Linked DNA regions of Homo sapiens: region 1 is linked to region 2. Evidence: fine-mapped expression QTL. A gene starts in region 2. The other region holds a variant in brackets. All regions are shown on one strand. Distances are from middle to middle. Region 1 has its middle 14 kb from the start of CHI3L1. Region 2 holds the start of MYBPH (myosin binding protein H).

Evidence for each region.
Region 1: its variant is fine-mapped to the expression of MYBPH in spleen (GTEx, PIP above 0.99).

Annotation. Positions count from the first base shown.
Region 1 is chr1:203,198,927-203,201,828 of GRCh38, reverse strand. No RefSeq gene overlaps it. Among named protein-coding and RNA genes, the nearest start is that of CHI3L1, 14 kb to the right of the region's middle. The variant A/C (reference allele first, on the strand shown) is at 1,365.
Region 2 is chr1:203,174,298-203,177,199 of GRCh38, reverse strand. It overlaps MYBPH (myosin binding protein H), which reads left to right and starts at 1,374. Exons shown (of 11, transcript NM_004997.3): 1 at 1,374-1,649; 2 at 1,739-1,873; 3 at 2,603-2,770. The coding sequence starts at 1,445. RefSeq lists an enhancer at 2,710-2,902.

The DNA.
Region 1 (2,902 bases), 25 kb before region 2:
TCGGGCTGAATGATATAGTTGCCGTTGTACCTTCTGGGTCTCTTCCACCACCTGATCTCTAAATGTCAGGATGCCTCAGGGCTCAGGCATGGGCTTCTGCCCTTCTTGCTCTACGTGAACTCATCCGTTCCCATGGCTTTAAATAGCATCTTGACACCAATGACTGTATCCGCAGCCTAGACCTCTCCTCCAAGCTCCAGATGCATGTATCCACCAGCCCGCTTGCTCTCTCTACCCAGATAAGGCATAAACAGTTCTTTAATATGGCTGAGACAGACCCCCTACTCTAAAACTTATCTCCACCCCATGAATTCCTCACATTAAACAATTAGCACAACCTTGTCCACCTTGCTAAAGGTAGGACCCCCTGGGTGGTTCCTGGTCCCTCTATTCCCTCATCCTTTTACATCCAACTCATCTGTAAGTGTGCGGATGTTCCCTCCAAGGAATGTCCATAGTCCACCCTTCTTTCCACCTCCACGTCCCCAGCCCAGGGCAGGCCACCGCATCTCTTGCCTGGACCTCTTTAACAGCTGCTTATGTTCATGCCTCTTCCACTCTTGCCATACCACAAATCTATTCCCTACAGAGCCACTAGAGTGACTTTCCAAAACATAAACTCTATCCTGGACTACCTGCTTAAACATCCAGTGGTGTCCCATTGCACAGAGGACAAAACCCCTCTGTGGTTTCCACAGGCCCCAGGACACAGACCTGCCTCTCTCCCCGGGGCCTCTTGTCTCTCCCCACATCCCCAAACTACTCTAGCCAGCTGGTCAGCTTGCTTGTGCTTTTCTCTTTTTTTTTTTCCAACACACTAAGCTCTTTCTCACCTCCAGGACTTTGCATATGGTGTTCTCTGCCTGGATCATTTTCTCTCTTCTTGAGGTAGCTGACTCCCTCTCATCCCTCAGATTTCTGCTTAAGATCACCTCCTCGGAGAAGCCTCCCTGACTGTCCTAACTAAAGGAGGTTCCACTCCTCACTCTCCCCACCCTAGCCCAGGACTTGGCACCTAATAGGGGCTCAGTAACTCTTTCCTGAAAGAATGAACACATGCTGCCCTTAGTCCCTGGCAGACTCCTGTGAGCTCTTTAGTTTATCCTTCTAAGCCACCAAAGATTCACTCTCCTTTCCGCTTATTTTTACGTTTTCTCAAAACTTTCCTCATAAACACCATATTGTTGAGTTTCTTTCTCTCCCTAAAATAGCTGCAGAACTGGACAAAGACTGGCTATCTGCTTCCTAGCTGTCCCTTTCAGTTTCAGGGTTTATGTGCTAGTCATTGCAGGGGAGCAGTGGGGAGAATGGAAAATTACCAACAAGGAGAAGTGGCAGAATCCAGGGACTGACCGTGTTCTTAC[A/C]CCCGTGGTCCTCAGTCTATAGTTAGCTTCTGACTTCCTTTCTTGGCAAGATCTATACCAGCTATCTAGGACAGTCCCAGTTTCAACTGTTCTGTCCTATTGTCCCACTGTGTTTCATGAATTTTCTTACAATATTGGCTCTCTCTCTTTTTCCTCCCACTCTCCTTTTATCCCATGAGGGCAGCCTTACTTAAACAACCCTCGCACTCAGTGTTGAAAGAGCTGAATTCAGTTCAAGTCTTGCTCAACCACATAAAATGTGCACGACTTTGGGCAAAGCACTGATCCTCTCTCAGCTTCCGTTTGCTCACCTACTGAGAGGGATAAGGCCAACACCTCCATTCCAGCATTCGGCAGGGCGGGTTGTGACTGGAATAGCATGTGTTGGGCACTTGGCACCCATAGCAAGTCTCCCTTGCCCCTCAGGATGAATAATGGAGTGAATTAGTCTTTCAGCCAAAAGACTCTGGGCTCCAGAGAGTAATGTAATGCTTTACCCAAACAGTGGAAGTGTGGAAGTGATGTGGATGTTGGGGGACTGTTATATTCTCTCGGTTCAGCTGTGGCCTGAGTGATGAGTCAGGTCATGTCTGTAGATAGAGAGCTCTGTCTCCACAAAGAGGAGGTGCCCAGCTCCAATCCCTGGGGAAAGGTTGTATCTTTATTGGAAACCAGAGCTCAGAAGACTAGCCTTAGGGAGATGGAAGAGGGCCCCGACTTGGGAGCAGGGGTGCATCTTTCAACAGGGGTCCCTAAACAGATGGCGCCCTCCGTATGGAATCAGGAGTCGAGCATAGCTTGAACGTCTGACTGTCCAGGACCCACCTCAAAGCGTGCACTTCCCCTGCCTCACCCTCAAGCCTCCCCTGAGTCTTATCTGAATGCCTTGGCTCAGGCTCTGCTTTTCAGGGGGAGGACTGTGCCACCTCCTGGGCCAGAGTGTTAAGGGGTGACCAGTGCCCCTGAGACCACCTTGGCTACAACCTCTCAAGGGAAATGTGCATCTTGGTGAATCCGAGGGACAGGGTAGGGATCATGCAATCCAGCTGCTTCTTTCTCCCCACCAGGGAGGTCTTCATCCAGTGCCAACCTGGGTAGGTCTGCCTCGAGCATGTTTTTATTGAGGAGCTGGCACTTTCTTTCAAATGTCAGGGGCATTGAAGACCACGCAGGTTTCACCTCCTCCAGGCCCTTGCCTAGCAGGAGAAAGGTCACTTTCAGGCATGTCCTCACACTCCCTGCACTCAGGTTTGCCTTGGGCCATGCCTGGTCAAAGGAAGCCTAGAGACTGGGCTCCAGTACAGGCTCTGTATTTAGCAGCCAAGTGACTTGGAAAGGTCACCTGCTCTCTGCTTCCTCATTGTCAATGGAGAAAACAATCTCTGTATTAGTTTTCTGTGGCCGCTATAACTAATTACCACAAATTATAATGGCTTAAGACAGCACATATTTAATGTCTTACAGTTTTTTGAGGTTACAAGCCTAAAATAAGTTTGATAAAGCTAAAATCAAGATGTCCACAGGGCTGTGTTCCTTCT
Region 2 (2,902 bases):
TGGCCTCATCTTCCTTTCTGGCCTTACCGCCTACGGATGTACCTTGAAGAAGGGAGCCTGGTGTTGACTGCATTTGGATTTAATGTAGATGAGACAGATGAGACGCAACATTTCTGTGTGCCTTGCTCTTCTGCTCATCACTGGGTCTGTGAGTAGCTGAAGTTGCTCATTTGACCCCATATTTTGCTTTACAGTTGCATAAACACTCCACAGTTATTTATCCATCCCACTGTTGAGGGACAGCTGTTTTCCCCCACATTTCAACAATTACAAATAACATTGCCATGAACCTTCTTCTCCATGTCTCCTGGGGCATGTGTGGGTGTTATATGAGCGGCACGGCTGGGTCACGGAGTAGGCACCTCATCCATTTTACTAGGCACTAGTAAAACTCTCACATTTTCCAGAGTGACTGCTCCAATACCAGCAATAAAAGTTCTTAATGTTCTCCCTCCTTCCTGACACATGGCATTTTCTGGCTTTCCAGTGATTCCCAGTCTTAACATTTTATCGAACAAATGAATCAATGACTAGAAATCTGGCCATATCTGCCTCCTTTGGCACACTGAGAAAGCCCATGCCCACAGCCTGCTTGGAAGAGTCTAGAAGCTTCAGAGTGCTCTCCTCCACTAGGGCATCTTCCAGATCTGCCTACAACTGCAACCCATCCCGAAGGGCGAGGGGTTCTCTGTAACAGGTGGAAAACTGAGGCCCACAGCAGGCATCAGGGGAGACGAGCTCCTTACCAGCCGCCCAACTGAGACAGGAGCCAGGAGACTTAGTGCCCCTTCCTGGGGTTCCAATGCTGGAGGACCATCCTCTGAGCAGCTCCACCCTCAGCATCTCAATTCCCTCCCTCTCTAGGGCCCTCAGCCTCATACAGCACAGGCGAGAGTCCCTGGGAACTGTGGGAGCCCAGGGAATGTGGACCCCAGAGGCAAAGCTGGGAGTGCTCACAAGGACGATTGTCCCAAACTGTCAGGGCCCCAGCACCCAGTCTGAGAAGCTCTGGGAACAAGTGGCCCCATAGACGCCAGACACACAGAGCCTGAGCTGGGCTCATTCTCCAGATAGAAGTTCTTCCTCCTATTGCCCTGACACCTGGCACGCGGCCTGCTCGATGTCCCATCTCACCCATCTGCGCCCTCCCCCAGCTGGGCACCAGCACCCTGGCTGTTGAAGGCCAGTCGGGGAGATGGATGAGGAAGTGACTCCTCAAGGGGCCCTTGTGGTTCCTCCCCCAGAGCTATTCCTGGCCTGGGCGCCTCTCCACCCTCCAGTCCTCCTGCTTGACCTGACCCCACAGCTGGGAATCGTTTGCTGGGGGTGGGGCAGCCCCTGACTATATAAGCCTGGACCTAGGTGTCCCAGGCACCCTAGAGGCCCAGGCCCCCCAACGGCTGACCCCTGCACACTCCACCCTGGCCCCCCAGCCAGTCCAGCAATGATGGAAAAAAACACCTCCGAGGGCCCTGCCTGCAGTCCAGAGGAGACCGCATCTGAATCTGCCAAGGTGCCCACAGCAGAGCCTCCCGGAGAAGTGGCAGTATCAGAGTCCACCAGAGAAGAGCAGGTGCCCAAGCCGCAGGCCCCTGCCCCACAGGCCCCTACAGCCTCCACAGCCACTAAGCCTGCACCCCCAAGTGAAGGTGACTGAAGGTGGGGCAGGGGGAGGAGGGAGGCAGGCATGTCAGGGGTGGAGGGGAGCTCTTGGCCATGAACCTCTTCATCTCCCCAGATGTCCCCAGTGCCCCACTGCTGCTGACCCTGGATGATGTGAGCAGCAGCTCTGTGACTGTGAGCTGGGAGCCCCCAGAGAGGCTGGGGAGGCTGGGCCTCCAGGGCTATGTGCTGGAGCTCTGCAGAGAGGGAGGTGAGTGCTGGGCTAAGTCTTGCATACACCCAGGGGAGGTTGTCATGGAGGGCTGCAGGGACAAGTGCACAGGCCCTGTGGTTGGTCAGTCTGGGAGAGATACAGAAGGAGGGGATGCGAGCAGTAGGCTCCTCAACCCACCCACCTGCCCTTTCTTGCTCCACCAGCAGGAGAGCAAGAAAGGGTAGGTGGGTGGGTTGAGGGGCTCCCTTGTCCTCAGCTCCAAGGAGCTTCTGAGTAAGGGAAGGGTAAGGGGACACTGGGTTCTCCTTTGGTGAGAAGGGAAGGAAGTGCTAAGTCTCAGAGGACCCCGAACTGTAGGAAGTGGAAAGGGAGGAGCTGGAGAGGGGAATGTTAGCGTAAGAGACAGTGAGGAGAAAGCGGGAATGGGGTGGGGGTGTGGGGGCCACATCCCTGCTGCCACTGTCCCCCTCCATGGCCCAAGTCCAGCCTGGCCTCTGCCTCTGCCCCTACCTTGCTGTGTGACTTTGCAAATGTGTCCAACCCTCTCTGGGCTTCAACAACCTCATCTCTAGCCACAATTTCAGGGCTCTAACATCAGGTGTCTTTGATGCCATTTGACAAGAAGTCAGGGAAGGCAAACAAGGGGAAAATGAGGCCCAGAGAGGGAGGCTGATTTCCCCAGATCACCAGCAGGAAAAGAAGCCCCATGGAGAGGGGCGCCTGTGGCCACATTGCAAAGACCTCACACTCTCTCCATCCCCTCAGCCTCGGAGTGGGTGCCTGTGAGTGCCCGGCCCATGATGGTGACCCAGCAGACTGTGCGGAACCTGGCTCTGGGAGACAAGTTCCTCCTGCGCGTGTCTGCAGTGAGTTCTGCAGGGGCTGGCCCGCCGGCCATGCTGGACCAGCCCATCCACATCCGAGAGAACATTGGTAAAGCCCATCCTGGCCTTCAGCTACCCAGCCCTTCCCAAACACCTTATCTAATGGAGAAACTGAGGCCAGCAGGTAGAGGGAACCAGGCAGTCATTTCCCCCGTCCCACGCTCACATGCACAAGCCACAC